4 linked regions of the Homo sapiens genome follow. The protein of the gene in region 4 purifies or fractionates together with the protein of the main gene of each other region. This does not show direct contact. Each region holds a gene or a part of one and is shown on either strand. Other genes may lie near its edges. The genes, in order: VPS8, EIF2B3, HEATR3 and FZD10.

Region 1 (7,250 bases), on a different chromosome or scaffold from region 4:
GCTGTTGTGGCCACTTTTCTTAGAAATGACCAGGAAATAATCACTTCTCCCCACCCCTGACCCCCCAAAAAATAAAATAAATAAATCAAGTCTGAATCTGGACTTTATGAGTTCCTATCTGTGACCTTGGTTAATTTGTTTACCTTTTCTGAACCTCTCTATTTCTATATCATTAAAATGGAATATTGTGGACATTTGTGTTGTTTGCTCAGAACAGCGTCTCTTGTTCTGGGAAGGGCTCCTTCAAACCATGTGTTCTCGTAGAGGCTAATGGTCAAAAATCCCTTAGTATAAGGGATTATGTGATAGCCAGAGTCTTTCACCAGGATTCATTAAAATGGAACTGATGAGGAAGAGATATTTCCATTGTTCTCTATACAATGAATAATGTGGCTGAGCAGATCCCACATTCCCCACCCAGCTCGCTTCTGCAGAAAAGAAATCATTCACTTAACACACACCTAACTAAACACTAAGCATCTGTCACTGGAGATGAACCTCTATTGATAGAACTTAGGTTCTAGGTACAGATTCTCTAGCAAGCATGAAACCTATCTAAAAAAACGAAGTAGAGGCCAGGCACAGTGCCTCACACCTGTAATCCTAGCACTTTGGGAGGCTGAGGCGGGTGGATTTCCTGAGCTCAGGAGTTCAAGACCAGCCTGGGCAGCAACACGGTGAAACCTCGTCTCTACTAAAATACAAAAAAAAAATTAGCCAAGCGTGGTGGCGTGTGCCTGTAGTCCCAGCTACTCAGGAGGCTGAGGCAGGAGAATTGCTTGAACCCGGGAGGCGGAGGATGCAATGAGCCAAGTTCGCGCCACTGCACTCCAGCCTGGGCAACAGAGCAAGACTCCGTCTCTAAAAAAAAAAAAAAGTAGAGAAGAAAGTTCTGACATTATTCAAGCCTCAGATTCTAGTCTTCTATGAAGTTAGCTCTGCCCATAGCCTTCTGGCAGTCTGGCTACATAAACCAACATATACTCTCCCAACTTCCCCCTTTCTTTTAGCACTTAAAATTGAGAGTCCTGGCTCTTATAAATGCAACTACCTACTCTGCAGGGCTCCTGTGAGGAACAAATGATATGATTACAAAGCATTGAGAATAATGTCTGGACATAATTTTCAACAGATATTAGCTATTACATTTAAAACCTCAAAATTTTCAAAGTTTTCTAAAGTTAAAGATTCTAAAACAAAATCCAGTATTTTTGTAAAGGTCTAGCCAGTGCTAAGCATATCAGAACGATATCCTGGATATCACAGCAGTTCTTCATGAGCTGAATGATAGGGGTTTTGTCTAAGACTAGTACAGCCCCCACCAAAGCAACAGAGACACTTAATAAAAACTTTAATTATAACAGAAGTGTCTTATTGTTACTAACTCATTCTAAAATCATGTTTTAGGTTTTTTTTAACATCAACATTAGTCTACACTTTATTAGTGAAGCCAACTATGTCCCCTTCCCAAGTTCCTCTTTTGTCACTTACCAGCAATTATTCCTTTCTTCATTTTAGTCAGTAAGTTTTTCCAACTCAAAGAGACCTGGTGAATCAAAAGGTCACCATGCTCAAATTTTTTTTAAAAGGAGAGTTCACATGAGCAGCTTCTGTGAATTTTTCAGAAAGTACCTAAGCTGGGAATCTACCAGTGGTAGGCAGTATGAGGGTATCCAACAATGCCAGTCCTAATCCCCAGAAACCATGAATATGTTACTTGATATGGCAAAAGGGATTTTGCAGGTTAAATTAAGACCTTGACAGGAAGGTTATTCCGGATGATTTGGGTGGGTCCAATGTAATCACAAAGGTCCTTGAAAGGGGAAGAGAGAGGCAGAAGAGAACGCCAGAGAAAGAGATGTGACACCATGTCACAGGCGTTGAACACGGAGAACAGGGCTCAGGAGCCAAGGATGCAGGCAGCCTCTAGAAGCTGCGAAAGACAAGGAAACAGATGGTCTCCGAGAGCCTCCAGAAGGACTGAAGTCGTCTTGATCTCTTAATTTTAGTGAGACTGGGGTGAGACTTGTGAAGTACTGAACTGTAAAATAAATCTGCATTGTTTTATACTACTAACTTTACGGTAATTTACGGCAACAATAGGAAATGAATAGACAGTGGATCCTTGAACAACACAGGTTTGAACTTCAAGGGTCCACTTACAAGTGGGTTTTCTTCCGCCTCTTCCACCCAAGACAGTGAGACCAACCCCTCCTCCTCCTCCTCAGCCTACTCAACGTTCAGACAAGGATGAAGGCCTTTATAATGATCCACTTACACGTAATGAAAAGCAAGTATATTTCCTCTTCCTTAGAATCTTAATATCTTTTCTTTAGCTTACTTTATTGTAACTAAATACAAATAACACACAAAATATGTGTTAAACAACTGTTAATGTTATCAGTAAGGCTTCTGCTCAACAGTAGGTAGTAGTAGTAAAGTTTTTGGGGAGTCACAAGTTGTACTCAGATTTTCCACTGGTTGAGGGGGTAGTGCCCTTAACCCCCGCATTGTTCAAGGGTCAACTGTACTAATAAATATAAGTTAATTTGTTTCTGGTCACATATCCAACATTCTGAAATATTAACCCTTACCTTGTGGGTTGGTGTTGCCCATGTGTTTATTAAGCAGGCCCTTCATTCCAATATATGCACCAATGATGGAATGCTTACTATATGATGCTTAATATTTCACTCTTGATACTGATCCTGCTTCAGCTATCCCTTAAATGTTATCCCAGTAAAAGGTTGATAATGAACCACTCATAAATTCCTGCTGGGATGCAATTCTACAACTAGTTCTTCACCCAACCATCATGTGAGCTAGTGTTTTTATAGTTCTTAAGAGGATACCATACCAGAGAGTACTTGCACATAACAAAACAGGCTTCATGATTTCTTAGTCTCTCTTAGAATGAAATCAGATTAATCTGATAGGAAATACATGTCATGGAATCATAATTACCCAGTATGCTGTCTCTTCTGAGTGCTGATAAATGAGTATTTTAATAGTTCAGACATAAGATTATCTGACATCTTGATAATTCTGTTATTTCCTCTTAATTGTTATTCCCAACCAATTAATAGATTCAAGGACCATTAAAAAAAGATATGCGCCATATAAACAGCAATGACTTAATTATGACACTGGCTAACTGAATAAGAACTCTAGAATGTGTGACCTATATTACGCCAAGTTAAACTTGCACCAGTTTTTTTTTAAGAGATGGGATCTTGCTATGTCGCCCAGGTTAGCCTTAAACTCCTGGCCTCAAGCGATCCTCCTACTTCACGTCTCCCAAGTAGCTGCAACTACCAGCCTGTGCCACCATGCCTGGCTTTTCACCAGTTTTCACCTTGGGAAACATTTATTCCTAACTGTTCTCAAGCTCCATGATCCTGTTTAATCCTGACATTCTTTTCCTCCTAAAAGTGTCATATGAGATACTTTTTCACATTACAATGAAATAGAATCAAGTTTTTATTTACTATATAATGCTAGAAAACAATCACAAAATCATGATATAGTACAACATTACATGCAAATTTTATTTTTGGCCTTCCCAATCCAAGCATTTCTCTTCATTCCTTTGTTTTGTTTTGTGGTTTGCTTTGTAAAGGGAAAAATAAAATGCAATGGTGGGTTAACTTCTATTAGTTTTCTATTACCTTCTGGCAAATGGACTTTTTTTTTTTTTTTTTTGAGACAGGTTCCCCCTCTGTCACCCAGGCTGGAGTGCAGTGGCATAAGCTCGGCTCATTACAACCTCTGCCTCCCAGGTCAAGCAATCCTCCCACTTCAGCCTCCCAAGTAGCTGGGTCTACAGGCGCACACCACCATGCCCAGCTAATTTTTTGAATTTTTCATAGAGATGATGTTGGCCAGGCTGGTCTCAAACTCCTGGGCTCAAGCCATCTGACCGCCTCAGCCTCCCAAAGTGCTGGGATTACAGGTGTAAGCCACCACGCCCAGCACAAGTGGACTTATTTTTAACAGATTCCCAATGCCTCCAGGATAAAATCCCAAATTCTAAGCCTGTGACTCCAGATATCACACGAGCTGATCCTTCTGCCTCCTTCCCTTACAATTGAATTTATTATTTTTGCACTAAGAGTCCTTCATGAATAGCTTCCACTTTCCCTTCATGTCTGCTCAAGCTGATTCACCTTCCCTTTCCTTTCCTTTTTCTCTACATTTATCTAACTTCCTTTCTTCCTTCTGGGCACCGTTCAAACTGGATCTGCCTATGACCTCTTCCTTCCCTAACCATCCTCTGAATTCAGAAAACATGTCTTCTTTTAAAACAGTGGCTTGGCTCTTTCCTCATGCTGATTCATTAGTTAATTTACCATGTGACTCTTTTCTCCCCAGCTATATAATAAAAATGGGGCCATGCTCCTTTGAATATTCCACATCACTGGGCTTACTGGCTTGCACAGCTAGGTAGACATTCGAAAAATGTTTGATTAACATAGGAACTAAGAGACAGGAATAACATCTGTGTTGCAAATTAAATCTATCAGTGTTATTACTTGTAATTGTTAAGCTCCAGAGGATATTATTTGACTCACAGCATATAGGAATCTATACCATAAGAAGCCAAGTTATAATTGAATACTACTTATATGTAGTCAAGCTTGTCAACCACTGCAGGTCATATTTATCAACTATCGGCTAAAACTTTGCTTCCTTAGGAAGGCCTTTTTTTGCCCTGCTCAACTAGGCTGTTTCCTGTTAGTATGCACCCATAACATCGTTCTCCTCTTTTACTACACTTACCACATTGTAATGATTTCCTCATTGTCTAAACCACCATTCCTTGCCCCCAGTTGGAATGCAGGTTCCATGAGAGAGCAAAGACCAGATCTGCCTTGTTCACCATTCTATTCCCCGTGCCGATATGACACAGCAGCTGATCAACCCACCCATCTACCCATCCACCCATTCCTCCCTCCCTCCCTCCCTCCCTAGGTAAATACCCAAGCAAGACTGCATCACTGGCTTCCAGAATCTCAAATAGCAGTTCTGGTCACGTAATACAAAGTATGGTTAGTTACACTACTCCAAAACGCCTCCATCTGTGCAAGTTCCATTCTTTGCATCTAGGAGAGATATTTTTAAATCACTTAGCTCATTTATAACATGATGCAAATCCCACAATCTCAGATGTTTTATGTTCTTTTACGTTAATTCAGCTTAGAGGCCAAGATGAATACAGTGGAAATGTACCATACTTCCATTCAATTTGCAGGATTTCATCTATTATCTTCAGCAACGGGAAGGAGAGAAAGAAATGATTCATATAGATGATTCTATGAATCATGATTCATGATTCTGCATACCTCCACTCAATAACTTCTTGCTTCACAGTGGGCACAGAATAGGAGATGGTCAGCTGCTGTTCTATGTCTCAGTTCTCACATGCCTCACACCCAAGCAGTTCACGTCACCTGTGCTCAAAATAACAAACGCCATGCAGTTCCAACATGGAAAAACAAGATCTGGCCGTATGGGGCTTCCTGAGAGACCCACCGCTTGTCAGTCTCTGATATGACTCCCTCTTGGGGTACTTTGAGGGTACTCAATTTTCACCTTATTCATTTAGATACAGACCCTATTTAGAGAAACATTACTATATACTGGGATGGGCTGCTTTACTTGACCCTGGAATTTCTTTCCAAGAAGGCACATTTAGGTAATTGTAGCTCACAGTGCCAGAACTGCCACGACGAAAAAGCCCAACCCTCTGTTTCTCTTTCTGTTGTTGGTGAATGTCTAAATGAGGAGAGTGATCATAAGTACATACAGATTAAAAAATGTTAAAAAGAAAAGTAAGGGGAAGGAACAGTGCCTAAGACCTTCCTGTATACAGTGAGTGCTAAGTTACTGCTATGAATTGTCAGACAATCAGCTCCAGCCTAGAAAAGAAAAATCTAATCCCCTATCACAATATACAAAACAATAATATGAACGAAGTCTACAAATATCTAGATAATGTAGAAATTCTAACTTTATTGATCAGTTTTATATCAATATGTGTGTGAGGTAATAAGTGAAATAAATAACAGAGAAAAATGATCACTTCCAGCTTCTATAATACTGTCTCCACTATCATGAGAATGTCTCTTCTCAGACCCACTTCAGCTCCAAAGAACTCCTCCTAAAAAGCACAAGGGCCTTGTGTACGCTGAAATATATTCCCTTTTCTTCTTCACATAACTGACTGATGCAGGTAAATTCTTGTAAGTTAAATGCGCAAAAGACAGGATTCCACTTAGGTAAAGGCTGAGTAGATGATGGCCTTCTTTATTAATTTGCAATTAACTGTCATCTCAATTTCTCTTGGTTAGGTGTCAAGAAGGATATAGAGTCATGAGAGATTTATTCTTTTTTTTTTTTTTTTTTTAAGAGCAGGAAGTAACTGGAAGCGTCTTGCTGAACTGCAACGGAAAAAACAAAGGTTAAAACACCCCAGCACCACTGCCACCTTTCCTGGAGGGCAACTGCTTCTCCTCCATTCCAACCATGTGATTTTGGTGGTGCTGCCAATCAAGTACCCTATCTGCCTAGCTAGCGGAGCAGAAGAGTAGGCACATCACATTCTTGGGTCCTATGTGGCCAATCAAGGTACTTCTGGAATTTCTCTTTATTCTAGGGTGCTTAATCTTGGATGGCATAACACAGGAGTCATCTGCAGTCACATCTTTTATGCATTTATATACAGTCATGTGCCCCAAAAAGACGTTTTGGGTCAACGACAGACCACATATACAACCATGGTCCCCTAACATTACACATAATGGAGCAGAAAAATGCCTGTAGCCCAGTGATGTCACAGCTGTTGTAATGAATGCATTACTCATCTGTCTGTGGTGATGCTGATGTAAACAGACCTACCGCACTGCCAGTAGTATAAAAGCTAAGCACATACAATTATGTGCAGTACATAATACTTGATAATAAACTATGTGCCAGTTTATGTATTTGCTATCCTATACTTTTTATCTTTAGAGTGTACTCATCCACTTATTTAAAAATTTAAAAATTAGCTGTAAAACAGTTTCAGGCAGGTCCTTCAGGAGGTATTCCAGAAGGCACTGTTATCATAAGAGATGACAGTTCCCTATGTGTTACTGCCTCTAAAGACATTCCACCGGGACCTTCCTGACTCTGTGTAGGCCTAGAGTAATGTGTGTGTTTGCGTCTTCGTTTTTAAAGATTAAAATTTTTTGAAATAGAAAAAAGCTAAC
Region 2 (7,250 bases), on a different chromosome or scaffold from region 4:
AAATAATTGAGGGAACTACATTGGGGTGGCATTCAAGGATAACAGAGGTGAGATAATGAAAAGATTAGTTATTGACATTGCTCCTGGTAGAACCCTGTGAAAATATAATTGCAGGTGTAGACCAGGGTGGCAGTGGAGCGCAGAATAATATAAAAGAAATTGTTGAAAATTGGGATTGAGGCCGGGCACAGTGGCTCACGCCTGTAATCCCAGCACTTTGGGAGGCTGAGACGGGTGGATCGCCTGAGGTCAGGAGTTCGAGACCAGGCTGGCCAACATGGTGAAACCCTGTCTCTACTAAAAATACAAAAATTAGCCAAGCATGGTGGCATGCACCTGTAATCCCAGCTTCTCAGGAGGCTGAGGCAGGAGAATTGCTTGAACCTGATAGGTGGAGGTTGCAGTAAGCTGAGATTGTGCCACTGCACTCCAGCCTGGGCAACAGAGTGAGACTCTGTCTCAAAAAAAAGAAAAAGAAAATTGGGATTGACTCCTGAAGAAAACCTGGCTCAGGAATCTGTAGGACCCACACCAGATAAAACCTCAGGTGAGCCTCAACCTGTATTGGTTACAGATCCAAGGGAGTCCCAAGCCAGAGAGCTTATGAGAAATCATAGCTAGTCCCACATTTACCCATGACTAGCATCTTTCACGCTGGTCTGGAAAGATGTTCATGGATAACCTGAGTGGGAAGACTTGTCCAGATCACAGGTGCACCGCTGTGTCCACATCATGAAAGAGGGACCCTGCTCTCGAGTGAGCATGCTGGGAAAAGTATCCTTTGAAGTGCCAACAGGGACTATGCAGCAGACGGGCCTGAAGGGCCTTGGGTGGAGTGTGGAAGAAGAGAACCTAGGGCTGGGGGCTTGGAATTAGCCTTCACATTCCAGTGTAGCCGTGCTGACAAGGCCTCCGTCAGCTAGTGTGGCTGCCACGCACAGTGCTCTGACCAGCATTCTGTCTATGCTGGAGAATCATAGACAGGCGCACTACCTGTGCCTTCCTAATAGACTGGTAGCCAAAGCCCCCCATACCTCTAACCTTTCCAGGTTTCTCACACTGGAGAGGGAATAGTGTGAACTTCCCCTTCATGTTTTCTTTTGGCTGGGGGATAGATGCCTTCTCAGGGTCTGTCCTTGATTTCGAATTTGTCTAAAATGGATCTCATCCTCACCTCATGCGTGGTCACAGTGGTCCAGGAGGTGACCAGGAACCCAGGATGCTTATGATCAGGATGCGGGGTGTTCCTTGACCTGATCAGGCCTCCTTTCCCAAGAGGTGGTATGTGGGTATCTCAAAGACTGGTCTCAGTGCCTCCCAGCCAAGGGACATGGCATTACTTTCAAGGAGGAGCATTCAAAGCTAAGAGACTGACAATAAGGCCATCTAGAAGCTGCTGCATAAATAATCTTGGTCCTAGGGGGAATGCAGCAGCCTCCTGCTCCCCCTCACTCAGACAGGAAGCTATGGCTGAGAACTCCCTGTATCTCTGATTGAGCACTGGGTTCTACCTAAGGTGTTTTTTTTTTTTTTTTTTTTTTTTTTTTTTATTGATCATTCTTGGGTGTTTCTCGCAGAGGGGGATTTGGCAGGGTCATAGGACAATAGTGGAGGGAATGTCAGCAGATAAACAAGTGAACAAAGGTCTCTGGTTTTCCTAGGCAGAGGACCCTGTGGCCTTCCGCAGCGTTTGTGTCCCTGGGTACTTAAGATCAGGGAGTGGTGATGACTCTTAACGAGCATGCTGCCTTCAAGCATCTGTTTAACAAAGCACATCTTGCACCGCCCTTAATCCATTTAACCCTGAGTGGACACAGCACATGTTTCAGAGAGCACAGGGTTGGGGGTAAGGTCGCAGATCAACAGGATCCCAAGGCAGAAGAATTTTTCTTAGTACAGAACAAAATGAAAAGTCTCCCATGTCTACTTCTCTCTACACAGACACAGCAACCATCCGATTTCTCAATCTTTTCCCCACCTTTCCCGCCTTTCTATTCCACAAAACCGCCATTGTCATCATGGCCCGTTCTCAATGAGCTGTTGGGTACACCTCCCAGAGGGGGTCGTGGCCGGGCAGAGGGGCTCCTCACTTCCCAGTAGGGGCGGCCAGGCAGAAGCGCCCCTCACCTCCCGGATGGGGCGGCTGGCCGGGTGGGGGGCTGACCCCCACCTCCCTCCCGGACGGGGTGGCTGCCGGGCGGAGACGCTCCTCACTTCCCAGACGGGGTGGCTGCCGGACGGAGGGGCTCCTCACTTCTCAGACGGGGCGGCTGCCAGGCAGAGGGTCTCCTCACTTCTCAGACGGGGCGGCCGGGCAGAGACGCTCCTCACCTCCCAGACAGGGTCGCGGCCAGGCAGAGGCGCTCCTCACATCCCAGACGGGGCGGCGGGGCAGAGGCGCTCCCCACATCCCAGACTATGGGCGGCCGGGCAGAGACGCTCCTCACTTCCTAGATGGGATGGCAGCGGGGAAGAGGTGCTCCTCACCTCCTAGATGGGATGGCGGCCAGGCAGAGACGCTCCTCACTTCCCAGACGGTGTGGCGGCCGGGCAGAGGCTGCAATCTCAGCTCTTTGGGAGGCCAAGGCAGGCGGCTGGGAGGTGGTTGTAGCTAGCCGAGATCACGCCACTGCACTCCAGCCTGGGCACCATTGAGCACTGAGTGAACCAGACTCCGTCTGCAATCCCGGCACCTCGGGAGGCCGAGGCTGGCGGATCACTCGCGGTTAGGAGCTGGAGACCAGCCCGGCCAACACAGCGAAACCCGTCTCCACCAAAAAAATACGAAAACCAGTCAGGCGTGGCGGCGCGCGCCTGCAATTGCAGGCAGTCGGCAGGCTGAGGCAGGAGAATCAGGCAGGGAGGTTGCAGTGAGCCGAGATGGCAGCAGTACAGTCCAGCTTTGGCTCGGCATCAGAGGGAGACCGTGGAAAGAGAGGGAGAGGGAGACCGTGGGGAGGGGGAGTGGGAGAGGTAGAGGGAGAGGGAGAGGGAGAGCTACCTAAGGTGTTTTCTGATCTTTAGTGACCAAATCTCTGTCCTTAAGGTGCCCAAATTGCTGTCTGCTCTCTGTCCAGAAGAACCACCAGTCCATTCGTCAGCCCAGATTGTCAGCAAACACCTGGTAAGTGCTAGTGTGGCCAGGACGGGCATGAGATGTTCTTTGGGAGCATCGAGACTTGTTTTTGAGAAGCCGGATTGAGGCCTTTAAGTCCTGAACCTCATCAGCCCCAGGGAAATCACAGTGGGTTCTGAGAATAAAATCTCACTCAACAAGACTGCCTGGGCAAGTAATGACCTTGTAAGGAAGGGTCCATTATAGTGTTGGGACTCAGACACAGGAGCTCTCAATCTCAGCCTGAAAGACTCTAGTCATGGGTAAATGTGGGACTACCTATGATTCTCATAAGCTCTCTGGCTTGGGACTCCCTTGGATCTGTAACCAATCCAGGTAGAGGCTCACCTGAGGTTTTATCTGGTATGGGTCCTACAGATTCCTGAGCCAAGTTTTCTTCAGGAGTCAGTCCCAATTTTCTTTTTCTTTTTTTTTGAGACAGAGTCTCACTCTGTTGCCCAGGCTGGAGTGCAGTGGCACAATCTGTCCCCCTTCTAACTCTGATTTGAGCACACTCTTTAAGAGAGCACATCTGTATACACAAGTGCATGAGTGTGTATATGTGTCTGTTGTTTTATTTTGTTTTCTTGGCAAGAGAGGAGGGCCCATGCTTCAAATAGGTTTGAGTTGGTCTCAGAGGTGTTGTATGACCTTGTGGCCCTGAGAAATACTGATCATGGTCCCTCTTGCTGAAGTGTCTCTATGGAAAGATCCCATTAGATCCCAGCTTGAGGGATCTGGAGGGTGGTTTGCAGTTGGTTGAGATGGGTGGACAGAGTTTTATATTTTGCCTTTTACAGGTTGGAGTTGACAGCCTCATTGGGCCAGAGACACAGATTGGAGAGAAGTCATCCATTAAGCGCTCAGTCATTGGCTCATCCTGTCTCATAAAAGATAGAGTGACTATTACCAATTGCCTTCTCATGAACTCAGTCACTGTGGAGGAAGGGTATGTTTCCCCCTGTACCCACTTGAGGCAAAGATAATGGAAAAATGCCTTCAAAATTCTGAAGGAAGGTTAATTTTAACCTAAAATTGTATACCCAGGCAAAGTGCTAATCAAGAGGGCAATAGAATAAAAACATTTTCAGATATCAAAAGTCTCAAAAACTTTACTAGGAAATTTATTCCTCTAAAATGGAAAATAAACCAAACAGAGAAAGATCAGAAACAAGAGATTCAACTCAGAAAAAGGGCAAAAAGAATCCATGGGATAACAGTGAACAGAGATAAGAATGACAGCTCTAAATGGGGCATAAAGGGATTAGTTAATCCAAACTGGAACAAAACCAAAGAATCCAGGAAAGATTTATTCAGCAAGATGCAACTGATAAAATACCAGATACATACAAACATTTGAAAGTCGATTTAGGCAACTGGCTAAAAGTTTGAAGTTGAATCGGGGATAACATAGAAAAAACAACACTATTTAACAAAAACAAGACTGTTATTAACTCTGGGAAAATGAAGAAGTTGTACAAGTTGAATATCCCTAATCCAAAAACCCAAAATCAAATGCTCCAAAATCCGAAACTTTTGAGCACCAACTTGACACTCAAAGGAAATTCTCACTGGAACATTTGAGAGTTCAGATTTTTGGGTTAGGGATGCTGAAACGGTAAGTATAATGCAAATATTCAAAAAAATTTTAAAAAATCCAAAATCTAAAACACTTCTGGCCCGGCACAGTGGCTCATGCCTGTAATCCCAGCATTTTGGGAGGCTGAGGCAGGTGCATCACCTGAGGTCAGGAGTTCGAGATTAGCCTGGCCAACATGGTGTAACCCCATCTCTACTAAAAATACAAAAAAAAAAAAAATTAGCCAGGTGTGGTGGTGTGCACCTGTAGTCCCAGCTACTCAGGAGGCTGAGGCAGGAGAATGGCTTGAACCCAGGAGGCAGAGGTTGCAGTGAGCTGAGATCGCACCACTGCACTCCAGCCTGGGTGACAGAGCAAGACTCTGTCTCAAAAAAAAAAATAAATAAATAAAAAATAAAACACTTCTGGTCCCAAGTATTTCAGATAAGGGATACATAACCTGTATAAGAAATGAAAAGACCATAGTTTGCTATGGATCAGCTACAAAATAGAATTTACATAGTCATAATAAACCTGACTACTGGCCAAAGTTATGCTATAACTCTATTGAAAGGATGAAAGATGGAAAGGGAAATGGGGGTAAGGGAGAAAGGAGAGCTAAATTCTCATTTTTCACTGTAGAAAGCCAATTGATAATGCCTAAAGCTGAAAAATAAAGAACTAGTAATACAATTATGTTAATACCTAGAGGCATGGAAGTAATACCAAATTACTCAGCAGAAAGAATTAAAAGAGTTGCCTCTGGGAAGAGGGAAATGAGGAATAGGGGTTGCAGGGGACTGCTGATTTTCATAACAAAATCTTCAGAAGTATTTGCTTTAAACTACTAATATCAGTTGGCCAAAAATATCCAGAGTTTTGTGGTACGCTGCTACCAGTGGTATGCTGATAAATTGTTGACAACCAGCCCTCCAAAGGAAAAAATAAGCGACATAATTCGAAACATTTGCTAATTTCTGTGGTGTAAATTATTCCACTATAGCCAATGATATCACCTAACGCTGAGTTGAGAAGAGATGCTAATAATTGCCTCTCCCAAGCTAAAACAAGCCAGCGTCAGCACACCACTAATAGAGACCCCTCTCAAGCATTTCACTGATTTATCAGATACTAACAGACCCACTCTCTGATTAAGATTGTGCTAGGCAGTGAAAGAAACAAAACGACATAAGTCTTAATCTCTTCCCTCAAGGAATTTATACTATGTGCAGTAAGAAGTGATAGGTGCTATGGTAGAGATCTGTAAGGTCAGAAGGGAGGAAAGGGTCAGGAAAGGCTTAAGGAAATGACCCTTGAGCTGAATCTTGGAAAATGAGTAGAGCCACCTGAGCTGGAGAAAGGAGTGGTTTTGGGGGTAGTGTTTTTTTGTTTTTTTTCAAGACAGGGTTTCCCTCTGTTGCCCAGGCTGGAGTACAGTGGCATGATCATAGCTCACTACAACCTCAAACTCCTGAGCTCCAACAGTCCTCCTGCCTCAGCTTCTCAGGTAGCTAGGACTACAGGCGCACACCACCAGGCCCAGCTAATTTTTTTAAAAAATTTTATAGAGATGGGGATTTTACTGTGTTGCCCAGGCTGGTCTTGAACTCCTGGCCTCAAGCAGTCCTCCCACCTCAGCCTCCCAAAGTGCTGGGATTACAGGCATGAGCCACTGCACCTGGCCAGAGGTATTCTAGATACATAAAAAGTGAAGTGGCCAGCCACATTGGCTCATATCCATAGTCCCGGCACTTTGGAAGGTCGAGGTGGGCAGATTACTTGAGCCCAGGAGTTTGAGACCAGCCTGGGCAACATGACGAAACCACATCTCTACAAAAACTACAAAAATTAGCCTGGAGTGGTGGCATACATCAGTAGTCTCAGCTACTCAGAAGGCTGAGATGGGAGGACCGACTGAGTCTGGTATGTCAAGGCTGCAGTGAGCCAAGATTGTGCTACTACACTGCAGCCTGGGTAACAGAGTGAGAGCCTGCCTTAAAATACATACATATACAAGAATTAGTTGAGCATGGTGGTGTGCACCTGTAACCCCTGAGGTGGGAGGATCAACTGAGCCCAGGAAGTGGAGGTTGCAGCAAGCAATGATCATGCCACTGCACTCCAGCCTAGGTGACAGAGTGAGACCCTATCTCAAAAAAAAAAAAAAAAAAAAGATTGTGAAGTATGAAAGAGCATATCTTATTCCAGAAACATCTCCCTATTTTGATCTTAGCTCAAATGTCACCTCTTCAGAGGAACCTTCCCCAACTACCCTATTGGAAATAATCTGTCCCACTAACCACCATCACATCAACCTGTTTCATTTCCCTCATAACACCATCACTATTTAGTCTTATCTTTACTTGTCTCTCACAAGTAAAACATTAGTTTCAGAATGTAAGTGCCTTATCTCTCTTGTTCACTTTTATATCCTGAGGGCCTACAGGAACTCAATAAATATTTGTTATATGAAAGAATGACAAACAATTCACCATGACCAGAATATAAATCAGAGAGGGATGGATACAAGAGACAAGGCTATACATGCAGATGGAC
Region 3 (7,763 bases), on a different chromosome or scaffold from region 4:
CTTTTCCAACTATCATAAAAATAAAGCTACAAAATAATAGAGATTAGTATCAATAATGAGAGCAGATTGGTGTTTCCAGGAAAAGGAATGAAATTTCCATAAGATGTTTAGATAGAAGACAAAGTCACCAACACCAAAGTACTAAAAAAAGTCTAAGTTTGCATCCCAAAAGCTACCATCAAGATACTGTAAAAACTGCATACCTCTTTTAGCAGCGCAACCAGAGGGGTCATGATATCCTTAGTCACCATGTCATCACAAACTTCAAAACCTCCACAAGCACTGAGATTTCTACACAAGAAGTTTAAAACATGTTTTACTTTCACATCACATGTCACAGAACACTTCTACCCTCTCACATTTCTATTTTTAGCCATATTTAAGGTTTCCCAGAGGAAATAGCTTATTGTTTCTGTCATACGCTGCAGAACCAATCCAGAGATTTCCATCTGTTCTGATCCATGTTCTACAAGATATAAACAGACGACGCTGTCATATAACTTAGTTCTGAGGTCTGAAACAGTATACAGGTGCATGGCTACAAGAAGGGGAGAGGGGAGACTTTTCTCATGTGAATAAATCACATCATGTATGAAGGGACCTTTTCTTGGAATCAAGACTACAAGGGCAGGGCTAGGTGCTGTGGCTCACACCTGTAATCCCAGCACTTTGAGAGGCCTAGGTGGGAGGATCAATTGAGCTCAGGAATTCAAGACCAGCCTAGGAACAGCGGGAGACCCCGTTTCTAAAAAAATAAAATAAAATAAAAAGCGAACTGCAAGGGCAGCAAGGTGGGGCTACTGAGAATGACACCCCCTAAAGCAGCCCTGGGTAAATTTTAATTGGAAAGACATGACTTCCGAGTACACAGCACTGTGCTAGTCCCTAAGGATATGGAGATAGTCAGAAGATGCCCTCACAATGTGCCAGGATCCCCCAGCCTCTGTATGCTGTGGGAGGAAGGGAAGGGCTTTCCACATGCTGTTTCCTCCCTAAAGGAAGAAGAGCGTCTATCCCCCCTCCATCAACTGGTGAATGCCCATTCATTCCTCCGAGCTCACCTCAAGCACCACTCACTCAGTCTTCTTCCCTGAACCCTTTGTTTGTACCCTCTTTTAGCACCCTTTGTCATTACCATTCATTGTAATCATACACTTATGTAACTGTTTGGTTAATGCTTGTCTCCCTCAATACACTTTAAGATTTCTTAAGGAGAGACATTGCCTTGCTCATTACCCCATGCCCACAGCTTAGCTCAGTGTCTGGCACACAGTTGGCACTTTATACATATTTGCTATATCAGTGAATGAAATATAAATAACAAACAGAGACAGAGCTGTAAGAACTACAAATACTAACCTCTACTCTTGCCCCCTCTGCAGTCCATTCTCTGCACAACCAGCAGAGTGGTCTTCACAAAATGTGTTGCAGCATGTCACTTCCCTGCTTAGAGTTAAGTCCTCAGCCCTACACCATCGTACAGCTCATCCCTCTCTCCAGCCTCACTTCCTGTAATTACCCACCCCTGCTCTTCTCAGCCACCTACCTACCCTCTCTGCTGTTTAACCACGTCAAGCTGCCTGCTGCTTCGCTTCTTTGCTGTTGCTGCTCCCTTTGTGGGGAATATTCTTCCCCCTATTTTCCCATGCCTCCTGGCTCTCTCACCCTGCACATCTCCTTTCACAAGTCATCTAAAGAGCACCTTTTTTTTTTTTTGAGACAGGGTCTTGTTCTATCACCCAGGCTGGAGTGCAGTGGTGTGATCATAGCTCACTGCAGCCTCGAACTCCTGGGCTCAAGCGATTCTCCTACCTCAGCCTCCTGAGTAGCTGGGATTACAGGCACCCACCACCATGCCCGACTAATTGTTTATAATTTTTCTACAGACGGGGTCTTGCTATGTTGCCCAGGTTGGCCTTGGACTCCTGGCCTCCAGTGATCCTCCTTCCTTGGCCTCCCAAAGCAATGGGATTACAGGTGTGTGCCACCGCGCCCGGCCCAAGAGCACCCAATTCAAACTTCCCACCCCCAACTCATCATCATCTCGTTTTCCCACAGCAATTCTCACTATTTAATATTATGTTTTACCTTTTTACTAGCTTCCTGTCTGTCTCCCCATCAACATGACTTGTGCCAAGACAGGGATCTTGGCTGTCAACAGATCTCGCTCAAAAGTCTTGGCTGCTCAAAGTCCCCTGCATCTAGAACGATTCCTGACACATGAACTGAAGAGTTCATCCAAGCAAGGGACCCTAAGGAGGGCTTTTGGAGAGTGTAAAACGTGCGCAAGGCGTGAGGGCAGGACGCCTGAGCAGGTGGACGCTGCAGGTGAAGCAGCCAGGTGGACAGATGAGATGCGGGGATACTGGGCTTCTCCGGAGCCTGGAGACTGGCTTCAAATCTCTGCAAACGGGAGACCGGGCCAGTGCCTGATGGCACACAGAAGGCGCTGGGTGACCGCTGCGACCGCCCGCAGCCCAGACGCGGGGGAGGCCAGCGGTGGGCACCGCCCCGCACCCTTCCTGGCTCACCTCAGCGCGCCGGCTGCAGTCTCCCTGACGGCCAGGCTGGGGTCTAGCAGCAGCGGCCCGAGGCGGCGCACGGCGTCTCGTCGCGCCAGGCCCGGGAGTGCCGGCCGCTGCTGCACCAGCCGGGCCAGCCCTGCGCAGGCGCACTCGCGGACCTCGGCGCTCGGGTGCTGGAGCTGCGGATGAGAGCGAAAAGGGTCAGAAGGCGCGCAATGCGCACGCGCGCGGGGCAACCTCGTCTCGCCTCCCGGCCCGACGGAGCCCTCGCCTCACCTTTTCCAGCAGCTCCGCCGCCGGCCCGTCGTCCTCCTCGCCTCCGGTCCCATTCGCCGCCGCAGCCGCCTCGGCCTGACAGTCGCCCGTAGGGGAGAACTGAGGTCGCTTGAAGCGCTTCGTCCGGCTCTTGCCCATGGTGACGTGCGCTGGGCGGACAGACCACCGAGAGAGGAGGGCAACAGCAGGCGGTGGAGGCTGCCGCGCCGTTAACAAGGTCCGTTGCTGCTGCTCAGCTGGGCCGGCTGACGGCTGCAGCACACATGGGCAAGCCGTGCGCAGGCGCACGGCGCGTCGTCTGCCGGGTCGGGGTTGGGGCGGGGCGGGGTGGGGGGAACTGGCGCACGGAGCGCGCAGGCGTGGAAGAGGGCATAGGCGGGGCCAGCTTCGGCAAAGGGGCGGAGCCTTGTGGGTTTACCGGGTAAGTAGGAGGTTGGACTAGAATAGTAACGCCGACCCGGGCGAGAGGATCACTTGAGGCCAGAAGTTCGAGACCATCTTGGGCAACATAGGAAAACACTCCACTCCCTGTCCTCCCCACCAAAAAAATTAAAAATTATCTGGGCATAGTGGCGTGTGTGTGTAGTCCCAGCTACTTGGGACGTTGAAGCCGGAGGATCACTTGACCCCAGGAGTTTGAGGCTGAGGTGAGCCGTGATCCTGCTACTGCACTCCATCCTGGGCGACAGAGCGAGACCCTGTCTCAATCAATCAATCAAGCAACCAATAAGTTAGTAACACCGGCTACAAATAATCAAATGTGATTAAGAATACCTAACTTGCAAGGTTATTGTAAGTTCTGTAAAGTTCATAAAGTTCTGTAAAGTGCCTAACACCAAGCCTGATATATAGCAGGTACTCAAAAAGCATTAACCACGATTTTATTTTGTGTCCCCAGCACCTCCCATAGCTCCTGTCGTAGACAGAGACTAGTTAATGTTTTGGAACGAATGTGTGTCTATATTTGATAAAACAGAATCGCTTAAGAACCTAATCTCCCTGCCTTAGTTTCCTCATCAGTGAAGTGGGGACATCGATAGTATATACCTCATGGAGTTGTTACGAAGACTAAATGTGTTCATATGTTTAAGGTGCTAAGAACAGAGACTGGCAGATACTAAGCACTATGTAAATGTTTGGAAACGTATTTAACAAAGAGATTCTTTTGCAGATATTTGTTGAGTACTAGGTACAGTGCTGGGCATTGGAATAAAGCAGTAATCAAGACAGTTTGGTTCCTGTCCTCTCTCCCTGTCCTTATGGAATTTACAGTCCAGGGAGAGATCTGTTGAATATATAATTATATGAATAACTTTGGTTATAATTGTGGTAAATACTAAGCAGAGGGAAAAGTACAGGAGAATCTTAGGTGGTCTTTATAATTAGACATGTAACGAGTGAGTACTCAATATATGCATAGCTTTGGGTCAATTTTCTTTTTTTCTTTTTGTTTTTGAAACAGAGTCTCACTCTGCTGTCCAGGCTGGAGTGCAATGGTGCGATCTCGGCTTATTGTAACCTCTGCCTTGGAGTTCAAGCAGTCCTCCTGCCTTAGCCTCCTAAGTAGCTGAGATTACAGGTATGTGCCACCATGCCCAGCTATTTTTTTTTTATTATTATTTTTAGGAGAGACGGGGTTTTACCACGTTGGTCAGGCTGGTCTCGAACTCTTGATCTCAAATGATCTGCCTGCCTCAGCCTCCCAAAGTGCTAGTATTACAGGTATGAGCCACCACGCCCAGGCTCAGGTCAACATTCTACTGGAGAAAATTTCCATTCCATGGTAACCCTACTGTCAAAGAGTTGACTGTCCAGTAAGGGAAATTAATTACTATGGCAAATTTTAGAGAGTAACAGAAGTGTAGCTCATGTTGCATTTGGGCCTATCAAAGATCAATCTTGGGCTGGGCACTGTGGCTCACACCTGTAATCCCACCACTTTGGGAAGCCAAGGTGAGCAGATCACCTGAGGTCTGGAGTTCAAGACCAGCCTGGCCAACATAGCGAAACCCCATCTCTACTAAAAATACAAAAATTAGCCAGGCATGGTGGCATGTGCCTGTAGTCCCAGCTACTTGGAGGCTGAGCCAGGAGAATCTCTTGAACCTGGGAGGCAAAGGTTGCAGTGAGCCGAGATCACGCCACTGCACTCCAGCTTGGGTGACAGAGCGAGACTCCGTCTCAAAAAAAAAAAAAAAAAAAAAATCAACCTTGGAGCCACTAAATATATGTTGGTGGGTTTTACTTCCTGTATATTTTATCAGGCCATCGATCTGCCTGCCACCCACCTAGTCCAGGCAACCGTCTTTTTGTTGTTGTTTTTTTTGAGATGGAGTCTCTTTCTCGTTGCTCAGGCTGGAGTGCAATGGCATGATCTCGGCTCACTGAAACCTCTGCCTCTTGGGTTCAAGTGATTTTCCTGCCTCAGCCTCCTGAGTAGCTGGGATTACAGGTGCATGCCACCACGCCCAGCTAAATTGTATTTTTAGTAGAGATGGGGTTTCACCATGTTGGCCAGGCTAGTCTCGAACTCCTAACCTCAGGTGATCCACCAGTCTCGGCTTCCCAAAGTGCTGGGATTACAGGCGTTATCTACCACGCCTGGCCTAGGCTACTGTCTTTTATCTTGAGCACGTGGCTCTCTGGTCTCTCCATTTCCACCCTGCCTGTCCCCCATCCATTGAGCAGCTAGAGTGATCTCAAAATATCCCTCCACCTTTCTCCTTATATTGTATTCACTTCCTCGCTTAAAACTTTTCAGTGGCTGCCGGGCATGGTGACTCACGCCTGTAATCCCAGCACTTTGGGAGGCTGAGGCGGGTAGATCACTGAGGTCATGAGTTCAAGACCGGCCTGGCCAACATGGTGAAACCATGTATGTACTAAAAATACAAAAATTAGCTGGGTGTGGTGGCACGTACCTGTAATCCCAGCTACTCAGGAGGCTGAGGCAGGAGAATCACTTGAACCCAGGAGGCAGAGGTTGCAGTGAGCCCAGATCACACCACTGGTCTCCAGCCTGGGTGACAAAGCAAGACTCCGTCTCAGAAGAAAAAACCAAAGAAAACAAAAAACTTTTCAGTGGCTTCCCTTTCTCTTTGGATAAAGATCAAAATCTTACCAGGGCTGCAGGGTTTCACCCCGGCCCCCAGCCTCACCTCTTCATTTTGCTCTTTTAGCCAACATCTATGGGGCCTCAGGGGTTTGCACAAACCCCAGCCCCTACCCTATGAACTAGTGAACACAGTCTTCATAGGCAGAGACAGGGACTTCGTAGTGAGAGACAGGTCTCCCTTGAGACAGCATGTACCTCGTTTCTTTGCTTCAAAGCACATATCAAAATTACAGTCGTAATTTTCAATTTCTTTGTGAACGGTTATACAATTGCCTTTCTCCCCAGCTGAACACTAGCACCTATAAAGACAAGACAGTGCCCATTTTCACACATCACAGTATCCCCAACACTAGCCCAGAGCCTGGCACAAGATAGTCATGCAATTTCTTGAATGAATGGAGTGACCACGTAGGAAAGAATAGGGCATTAAATCTAGATGGAATAAGATGACGAGAATTTAGATGAGATAGAAACAGATTCCTCCTGTTTCTCTCACTGTGAGGATGAGCAAGAAAAAAGTGGTTCAAAACTCAGGCTGGGCGCGGGGGCTCATGCCTGTAATCCCAGCACTTTGGGAGGCTGAGGCGGGCAGATCACCTGAGGTCAGGAGTTCCAGACCAGCCTGGCCAGCATGGTGAAACCCCGTCTCTACAAAAAATACAAAAATTAGCCAAGCATGGTGGTACATGCCTGTAGTCCCAGCTACTCAGGAGGCTGAGGCAAGAGAACCACTTGAACCTGGGAGGTGGAGGTTGCAGTGAGCTGAGATCATGCCACTGCACTGCAACCTGGGCGACAGAACGAGACTCCGTCTCAAAAACAAACAAACAAAAAAAACCTTAACTAGATGAGCACAGAGGACTTTTAGGGCAGTGAAAATACTTTAGATGATATAATGGTGGATATATGTCATTGTACATTTTTCCAAACGTCTAGAATGTATAACACCTAGAGCAAACCCTAATGTAAACTACGGATTTGGGGTGATAATGGCATGTCAGTGTAGGTTCATGGTTGTAACAAATGCATCATGGTGGAAGATGTTATCATGGGAGAGGCTGTGCATATGTGGGGGCTGGGAGTATGTGGGAAATCTCTGTACTTTCCTCTTTTTGCCGTGAACCTGAAACTGCTTTAAAAAATAAAGTCTTCGGCCAGGTTCACTGGCTCAAACCTGTAATCCCAGCACTTTGGGAGGCCATGGCGGCTGGATCACTTGAGCCCAGGATTTCAAGACCAGCGTGGGCAACATAATGCGACCCCATCTCTACAAAAAATTAAAAAATTAGCTGGGTGCGGTGGTGTGTGCCTGTAGTCCCAGCTACTTGGGAGGCTGAGGTGGGAGAATCACTTGAGCATGGGAGGTGGAGGCTTCAGTGAGCCGAGATCACACCACTGCGCTCCAGCCTGGGTGACAGAGTGAGACCCTGTCTCAAAAAATAAAACTAAATTCTTAAAAAATATAAATACGTATAAATACCATAGCTAGAGCAGAACTTTGTGGTCTGTTATCATTAGTTACTCTTTCCAGTGATAAATTACCATTGCTGCTAAAATGAGTAATTAGCTTTATTTAATGAGCTTAAGAGCCCTTCTGGGAGCCACCCTCAGTCAATTGTCAGTCTTGGAAGGAGCCCAGTGATCTTTAACCAGTCTAATCTTCCTTCACCAGTCATTTTTTAAAATGCAGTGAAGTAGTGATTATCTAACCATCCCTTTTTCCTGCAAATTATCTTTGTCAAGAGGGAATTTTTGAATTAGACTGCTTAGAAGCCTCTTCCCTTGAGACAAGTTGGAAATAAGCTTGTCATCAATTATTGGTCTGACAAATTAAAAAAAAAAAAAGG
Region 4 (8,203 bases):
CACGCAGAAACCACTCTTTCCTGGCACTGTGAAGAGAATACACTAGACAAAGTGTCTCTGCCAACCTAGTGCTTCCTGATCTGTTTGTGGAAATCATTTGTTTAACAATAGAAAGAGTCAATAAGCCCTTTGGGTAACTTTTGAATGATCCTTCTCCCTCTTCCCCCCTCCTTTCCACAAATCAGTCCAAACGTCTATAACATTGGCTTGGTTTCCATTAAAAAGCCACAAAATGTAGCACTGAAGGGTTTCTGAGGGCTGGGCCTCTTAGTTCTTTTGTTAGGAGATTTCTTTTGTTGTCTTTATATATAGCAAAATACTTGTTTCTCTTTTTATTTTCAAGGAAAGAGAAAAAAATGTATTGCACATCGTTTGAGTTCACAAATGTGAGGTTTGATGGAGGTTTCTGTCTTGCAGAGAGACTATTGGTGAAGGCCGGAGTCTATTTTAAGCAACTCCAAATCCACTGGGGTGTGAGGCGGGCCCCGGGTCCTGTCTTTCCTCTGCAGGGATGCCGCCCAGCACTGTGGCCTTCCTGGGGGTGGGCCCTGGGGATGGCTCATTTGTTAACCCAGGGGAGGCTCTTGAATTTGCAAAGCAGTTATCTGTCCTCTTATTTGTAAATGGGTAGCAAAGCCAACTCAAATACACAGATGTATATTTAGGGAGGGCTCTAAACAAAAGTTTTCTTCTGAGGGCTGAATCAACTACTTTACCACAAATTAGTTACACAAGAGGCTACTTCACTGGAGGAGCTTCCCTTCGCTGGAAAACCAAAACAAAACAAAACCCTTTAAGTACATTTTTCCTTTCAGTGTATCACAGCATCCTGAATTTCAGGGTAAACACTTTTTTATGTATTTCTCTTTTGCTTTTATAAAAAAAAAAAAAGAAGAAGAAGAAAGAAAAACACAACCAAGAAAAGCACCACATCTTAGCTCCGGGCGCCCCTGTGCCCTTCCCTCCAGCCCTGTTCACACGCAGGTGGGCGACTGGGCAGGGATCTCATATTTCCCGTGGTGAGTTTTCTGGGGATGCTGGGCTTTTTTGTAAATCCCACCGCTGGTGATCACGCTGGCCGGTTTTCTCCGGCTCTTCTTCTTTAACCTACGGCTGCACACCTGCTGCCAGGACTGCAGAGTCTTGGAGGTCCAAATCCACATCCCGCTGGTGATCCCCACCACCAGCAGCATAAAGATCTTCACCATGAAGATCTCCACGGCGGGGATGGAGGCGGCCATCAGGCAGTCCAGCGTTTTAGTCTGGTTGTTCATTTTGCACTTGTGCTGCGCCGCCAGGATCTTCCAGTAATCCATGTTGAGGCGTTCGTAAAAGTAGCAGGCGATCACACAGGTGGCCGGCACGGTGTACAGCACAGAGAAGAGCCCGATACGCACCATGAGCTTCTCCAGCTTGTCCGTGTTCTCGCCGCCCGTCTTCATCACCCTCCGGATGTGGAACAGGGCCACGAAGCCCGAGAGGATGAAGGACGTGCCGATGACCAGGTAGCAGGCCAGGGGAATGAGCACGAAGCCGGTGAGCGCGTTGACGTCCATGCTGCCCACGTAGCAGACCCCGGTGAGCTCGTCCCCCGCCACCCTGCGCATGACCAGGATCAGGATGGTCTTCACCGCCGGGATGGCCCAGGCTGCCAGGTGGAAGTAGCTGCTGTTGGCTTCGATGGCCTCGTGGCCCCACTTCTTGCCGGCGGCCAGGAACCAGGTGAGCGTGAGGACCACCCACCACAGCGAGCTGGCCATGCCGAAGTAGTAGAGGACCAGGAAGACCAGCGTGCAGCCGGTGCTCTCCAGTCCCTCCTGGATGACATAGAGCTGGCCGCTGTCCCGGTCGCAGGCGATGCTCTCGGCGCCGGCGAAGAGGCGGATGAGGTAGCCCACGGAGTAGACGCAGTAGCACATGGAGAGGAAGATGATGGGGCGCTCGGGGTAGCGGAAGCGGGCCGGGTCGATGAGGAAGGTGAGCACGGTGAAGGCGCTGGAGAAGAAGCACAGCACCGCCCAGATGGCCAGCCAGACCACTGCGAAGCGCTTGTCCTCGCGGCTCCAGTACACGTCCACGCCGGGCGTGCAGAGCGGCGCGCACGACGCGCTCTTCTCCACGTGGTGGAACTTGCCCGGGTTGTCGCAGCCGCCGCGCCCGGGGCCCCCGTCCTTCAGCGGGTGCTCCTGCGCGCTGTGGGGCCGCTGCGGCCGGAACAGCGGCGGGAACAGGCCCGAGCCCCGGGTGGGCTCGTCCGAGCCGTTGTTGGGCGCCTCCATGCACAGGTAGTTGGGGTCGTTCTTGTTGGGGAGTTTCCGGCAGTCCAGGGAGTCGGGCCACTTGAAGTTGAACTGCTCCATAATCGGGGAGCACTTGAGCCGGGCCTGCTCGCACATGACCCGGCAGGCGGGGATGGGGGTAGAGACCTGCTCGGTGCACATCGGCGCGTACAGCGAGCACAGGAAGAAGCGGAGGTGGCCGTGGCAGCCGTACTCCACCAGCGGCGCGAACTCGTGCAACTGGATGGCTGCCTCGCGCTGGTTCTCGTGGCCCATCAGGTTGGGCATACGAGTCATGTTGTAGCCGATGTCCTTGCACATCGGGATCTCGATGGGCTGGCATTTGCCGTCGCCCGGGCGCTCCATGTCCATGGAGCTGATGGCGGCGCACGAGCCCATCACCTGCAGGACCAGCCACAGGCGGGGGCCCGGGCGCTGCATGCTGGCGTTGGACGTGTCCTCGCGGGGAGCTCCGCGCCCCTCAGCGCCGCCGCTCCCGGGCACGGGCTGCTGCTGGCCCCGGCTCTCCACCCCTGCTCGGGCCCCCGCCCATGCCCGCCCGGCCTGGCCCGAGCGCTGCGCACAGCGCCCCCGGCTCGGCTCTCCGCGCCCGGCGTCCGCCGAGTTGGGGGCCGCGGCGGAGAGCAGCAAAGTTTGCAAACAATACCGGGAAGCGAGGGAAGCCCCCGGAGCTCCCGGCGCAGCGGCCCGGCGCGAGCTCCAACTCACGGCCGCGGCAAACTTCGGCCTCTTCTTGGAGCGCCCAGGTGGCGCGTCTGGAGCGGGCTGGCGGCGCGGGCACACCGAGGCCGGCCCAGCTCGCGGCGCCCCCACAGCCCGGGCGGCTCCTCCCTCCCTGCGCCGGCCTCGGCCGGGACCAGCCGGCAGCTGTTTCGAGGTTTGCGTCCCGGGATGAGAAGACTCGCAAAAAGGCAAAGGGGGGCAGAAAAGCCGAGCGCTGACAGGCCCCGCCCCCGGGCCGCGCGCCCCGCCCCGCCGCTGCTTTGCATGAGAAAGCGCAGCGGCCCGGGGCAGCCTCCTCCCCGCCGCCCCGCCGCGGGCTCCCGGGCCCCGCGGGGGCCGATCCCCCCCGGCCTGCAGCCCAGCCTGCGGGGGGCGCAGCGCCTAGTCCCGCCCGCGTCGCCCGCCAGCCCCGGGACAGCCCGCCTGGCGCGCGGGGCTCTGCGCGCTGCGACCCTCCCCGGCAGTCCCGCCCGCCTCTCCTCGCCCTCTCTCTGCCTGGCCTCCAACTTTGCCTCTCGCTATCCTCTCCGCCGGCGCCCCCTTTCCCGGCGGTCCCCGGGATGGTCCCCGGCACCCCGAGGACGCCGAGGTTACGGGAAGTTCGGGGACTGGCGGGAGAAGGGGTTTGGGGGTGGTCCGCGGCGAGGGGCGCGGGGTGCATCTTCTCTTCCTTTTATGGTGAGTCCCGGGCGGAGGGCGCTTTCAAAGGGAGGTGGGATTTGCGTTTTATAGCCTGGGCCATAAAGTAGGCCCTTGCTTGTAAACCTGCCCGCATCTTCCTGAGGCTGGGGAGGTGCTACCAGCCCCGGGCTCCGGGCTCCGAGGAGGGATTTTCTTTGAAATTTCAAAGAGACGAGCTAAGGGGAGGGGGAGGGGCTCGAGAATCCGGATTTTAGGGCCGCTCATCCGAGGTCTCCTCTAAGAAGGCGGGAAGGGGGAGGGGCGGGAAGCGTCCCGGGACTTTGAACACCGCCTCCCACCCCGCGGGAAGTGCGGGCTTGGTTTGTACCGCGGTGACCCCCGCCCCCTCCGAAGCCGCAGAGCCGGGGCCTCGCGCCAGCAGGGCTGGAGATGCCTTCTTGGCGGCTGAGTTTATTTATTATAGGAAGTCATTCGCTCGTGGGGTATTTATGTGATTTGGCGAGTGATGTGCCCGGCCAGCGCCCTCCTTGGCTGCAGCCCCGCAGGAGGACCCGGAGTAGGGTGGGATGGAGTGGGTCGTGGGAGGAGCGCGTCAGCGCCTGCCCGGGGACCCCCAGCTCCCGCGAGGACACGGAGGCGCGCACGCCGCTCGGTTTTCCTGGAAAGTGGAGAAGGAGCGTCCTGGGCAGGTCCTCTGAGCTCATCCCCCCTCGGATTGGGGCGGGTCTGTGACGGGGTCACTTAGGACACGACGTCCCCCCGCCATTCCCTTCCCCCGCCCAGGGCGTTCGCGGTGGGCGCCCACCGCCAAGCCCCACTGTTCCCAAGGATGCGCCAGGTGCTTCCCGTAGCGTCCTGGGTTGACCCTTAAAAAAACAGCACCCCTAGGAGGTGGCCGGCCCTCTCCTCCCAGGGTCTCTCCGGGTCACGATCTTCCAAAGTTCGGAAACTCGCAGGATCGCGTGTGCAATCTCCCGCTACCTCCCGGGGGGCCGGGGAGAGGTCAGAGGAGCGAGTCCCGCGTCCACCGGCCTCGCTTGCCCCCTGCCCGTTTGAGGATAGTTCCAGGGAGCAGGGTGGAGTGTGCGGACATCTTTGGAGGCAGTGCTGGGGCTTCCCGCGTTGGCGGCGCTCCACCCGGCGTGGGGGGCGGCTGCACGGGCCCCCGCGGTGGGGACGCTGCGCACGGGGCAAGGTCTCCCTAGGAAGCGCCCGGGAAGGAGATGGGGCCCGCCAGGAACCCCCCTCACTGACCAGCTTTCTGCACGCCGTGCAGGAGGGGGCCACTTCCTCGGAGAGTATTGGCTTTTAATTAAAACAAGCCCTACAATTTTTACATCGGTAAGAAACTTGGGGAAATCTCACCTTTCCACTCATTCATTCATCCGTTCAACAGACATTTGAGCGCCCAGAATCCCAGAATTAATAGGCAGGTTCAGGCACCCACCCCTGGGTCGCTGTCCCTGGGTGTCCTGGGTCTCACTAGGAGGTGCTGGAGGAAGTCGGGGTGAGGGAGAAAGTGAAAAAGAAGGTAGAAACTCCGGGCAGTTAGAACACCACCTTCAACTGTGTTATTTCCCAAGTGAAAAGTTGCATGATTTTATTTTTGAAAGACTGCCATTTTTATTATAGTGTTTTTTTTTTTGTTGTTGTTGTTTTTTGTCTAGTGAGTAATTTTTCAGGACCTTTAAATTAAAATTAATTCAGCGGAAATCACTTGGCTTTTCTAGAATTTTCCTGGCAAAGGTCCTTCCTGGGCCCTATTTTCCTTCTTTTCCTTTTTGTGTCTCTCCCTCAGCAACTATTAGAAATATTTAGTGCAAGAGTGAGAGCCAAACGCCGGGAGCTGGGTGTGAGCTATTTGAGAAAGTGCCTCCTAATTGATCTTTTCTGTGCTGTTTTAATTCAGCCACGTTCAGGCCCATTATTTTAGCTATAACCACTTCAGATTGCCTTTTTCTCTCGTTTTTTATAAAAATGTCTGCAGAAGTGCTTCGCCCTGTCCAGCTGAGATGGAAACCAACAAATAGACTTTATTATAGAGAAATGAGGGTTCTGAGAAATCAGCAACTGGAAGATAAGTCTGTAACTAATAAATGAAAAGGCTCTTTTGATGGCCCCAGCTGAAAAGATATTTTATTTTATTTTTTTTCCTGTGTGTGGGATTTGAGATGTGTGAGTCTAAGGAGCAGCCGGGGTCCCCCGCTGCTCAGCCCTGGCTGGCAACCGACCCCCCTCTGGCAAATGTTATGGAGAATTGGGAGGAATTTTATGGCTGTCTTTCCCTCAGCTCTTTTTTCTTTTGTCTTCTTTGAAGAATGACTTTAGACATTTTATTTACATATTTAACCATGGATGAAAGACGGAAAAGAAAGCTTTGGAGCCGTCGTGGGAATAGTGATATGTTTAAATTAATGGAAATCTTATTAGGCTTCTAAAATTTTGAGCAAAGATTTTTAATGAAACTTTATAATTAAACATGATTTCACATAACGTGCAGAGACAAGGAATATGTTTTTACCCCCAACCACCTAAAAATGTCTGTCTATCGGAAAGCTATCAGTAAACATTATCCGCCTTCAGGTTCTTGCAAACGTTCACCAGGGAAAGTATGAGGTTTTTGAGAGAGAATATTTCAGGAGTCAGGCAGTGTTTTGAACAAGAACTAAATATTTTTTGGAGGTGGAGGGGAATTGAAAGAGAGGCCCAGTTTCATTCCATTTAAACTCACAAAGTCAAAAGTATAAAAGTACTTTGACACGGATATTGCTAAAAATCAAAGTTGTATCTTTTCTTATTATGTAATAGTCAATGGAAATTATAAGCACTGTGCGAGGTTTTCTGAAATGGGATTAGAGAAAACCCAAATAATCTCTTTAAGATAAAAAAGTACTGAGTCTTTCAGCAACAGAAAGAAATTAAACCATAAGCTTAGCATGTTACAAGCTAATTGCAAGAGTAAACTGGTGGCATAGGAAGAAAGCTCATAAACAGAAGTAAAATCGTGCTGGTGAATGTTGAGATAAAAAGTGGTTCAGGCTGTCGCAACGCCTTTCAGTAGCTGCTGCTTGAATCACCTCTCTTGGTACATTCAAGTGTGAGGATCCACGTAAGTGATTCTTGTGTTTCTTCTCTTGTCTTCTCGTGTCGTCAATGTTTGTATTTAGTCCGGGACATTTCCAATTCTACCTTCAAGTATGAGAATGAAAACTGATCTATTTACCAATAATTGCTTCACATGCAGGGAAGTCTGATGTGAATAGACCTTGTTTTCTCTGACCTCATCTAGTATCAAGTTTCTGCAGAAACTTATCAGATATAAAACATGCACAAAAAATTATGTTTTCTGATCAAGTAGGCATGCTCCCCGTGGCGTGCCCCCATCTTTTTCTCCAGGGAAAATACCTTTAGTGATCTGAAGTGATACTTAGCAAAGAAAACACAGTTTGTACCACCAGAAAGGCCATGCAAGTCGCAGCGAATTCAACAGGCGCAAAAGTTTTAATTCTGCCTAAAAACACTGGCTGTGAGATGTGGAGGTTTGGGGGAAGGTGAGAAATGAACCCCGAAGCACCCCCATCCTAAAGTGGATGAGTGGGGTGTCCAGTGTGGCTCCAGCACAATTTAGGCAGCTATTTTAAGGCCACTTCCCTTGAAATGTGGTTTGAAATATTACCAAAGGTTCCACGGGGTGCACTAGTGTGAATTGCAAATCAGAGCATTGATTTAATCCTCTTTCAAGGCCGGGCTTTGGATCGCTGGCGTCGACTGGCTCCCCACTGCTCCTGGCTCAGGAGGGACCATTCAAGGGGGCAGCTTCCCGCCTCTATTCCCACACTCCAAAAAACAACACCGCAGACAGACACCCTCCAACTAAATTAGATTAAACTCCTTCTCTTCCACAGCGTATTAGCCTTTTTGCTGCCCAAGCCTCCTTACGCAGCCCCTCCTCATTTAAAGACACAGATTTCTTTTTCATCTCTGCAACTGCAACAACAACAAACACAATCATATATATATATATAGTGTGTGTATATATGTGTGTGTGTGTGTATATATATGTGTGTGTATATATGTGTGTGTATATATGTGTGTGTATATATGTGTGTGTATGTGTGTGTATATGTGTGTGTATATATATGTGTGTGTATATATGTGTGTATATATGTGTGTATATATGTGTGTGTATATATGTGTGTGTATATGTGTGTGTATATATGTGTGTGTGTATGTGTGTGTGTATATATGTGTGTGTATATATATGTGTGTGTGTATATATGTGTGTGTGTGTGTGTGTATATATATATATATATTTTTTTTTTAAAGAGATAAAGCCAGCCTTCTAAGTGCTCTTACATGGCAAGGACGTTATCTGTTTAAAATCCAGGAGGGCGTCGCCTACCTGTTCTGAAACTCAACAAATTAACCCTTAACCTGGGGCAAACCTAGAGCCTATTCACAGTGCTTCAACCTGCAATTCTGTACTGGACTGTTTTTGGAGGAATATATGAGAAAAGAAACATCACAGAATTCCAGAA

The links.
Region 1: the proteins of FZD10 (region 4) and VPS8 purify together in Homo sapiens (co-immunoprecipitation; 3 studies listed by BioGRID and IntAct, with this or other methods). This does not show direct contact.
Region 2: the proteins of FZD10 (region 4) and EIF2B3 purify together in Homo sapiens (co-immunoprecipitation; 3 studies listed by BioGRID and IntAct, with this or other methods). This does not show direct contact.
Region 3: the proteins of FZD10 (region 4) and HEATR3 purify together in Homo sapiens (co-immunoprecipitation; 3 studies listed by BioGRID and IntAct, with this or other methods). This does not show direct contact.

The regions. Positions count from the first base shown.
Region 1 is NC_000003.12:184,814,974-184,822,223, reverse strand, and holds part of VPS8 (vacuolar protein sorting-associated protein 8 homolog), read right to left. Parts: intron 6,441-7,250; exon of another isoform or gene 5,343-6,440; intron 5,103-5,342; exon of another isoform or gene 4,780-5,102; intron 1,517-4,779; exon of another isoform or gene 1,492-1,516; intron 1-1,491. UniProt on the Homo sapiens protein: Plays a role in vesicle-mediated protein trafficking of the endocytic membrane transport pathway.
Region 2 is NC_000001.11:44,871,492-44,878,741, reverse strand, and holds part of EIF2B3 (translation initiation factor eIF2B subunit gamma), read left to right. Parts: intron 1-3,046; coding exon 3,047-3,124; intron 3,125-3,915; coding exon 3,916-4,064; coding exon of another isoform or gene 4,065-4,101; exon of another isoform or gene 4,102-4,215; intron 4,216-7,250. UniProt on the Homo sapiens protein: Acts as a component of the translation initiation factor 2B (eIF2B) complex, which catalyzes the exchange of GDP for GTP on the eukaryotic initiation factor 2 (eIF2) complex gamma subunit.
Region 3 is NC_000016.10:50,061,308-50,069,070, reverse strand, and holds the start of HEATR3 (HEAT repeat-containing protein 3), read right to left. Parts: upstream 3,102-7,763; 5' UTR 2,940-3,101; coding exon 2,802-2,939; exon of another isoform or gene 2,747-2,801; intron 2,705-2,746; coding exon 2,532-2,704; intron 2,430-2,531; exon of another isoform or gene 2,089-2,429; intron 292-2,088; coding exon 204-291; intron 1-203. UniProt on the Homo sapiens protein: Plays a role in ribosome biogenesis and in nuclear import of the 60S ribosomal protein L5/large ribosomal subunit protein uL18 (RPL5). Required for proper erythrocyte maturation.
Region 4 is NC_000012.12:130,157,460-130,165,662, reverse strand, and holds the start of FZD10 (frizzled-10 precursor), read right to left. Parts: upstream 3,200-8,203; 5' UTR 2,721-3,199; coding exon 975-2,720; 3' UTR 1-974. UniProt on the Homo sapiens protein: Receptor for Wnt proteins. Functions in the canonical Wnt/beta-catenin signaling pathway.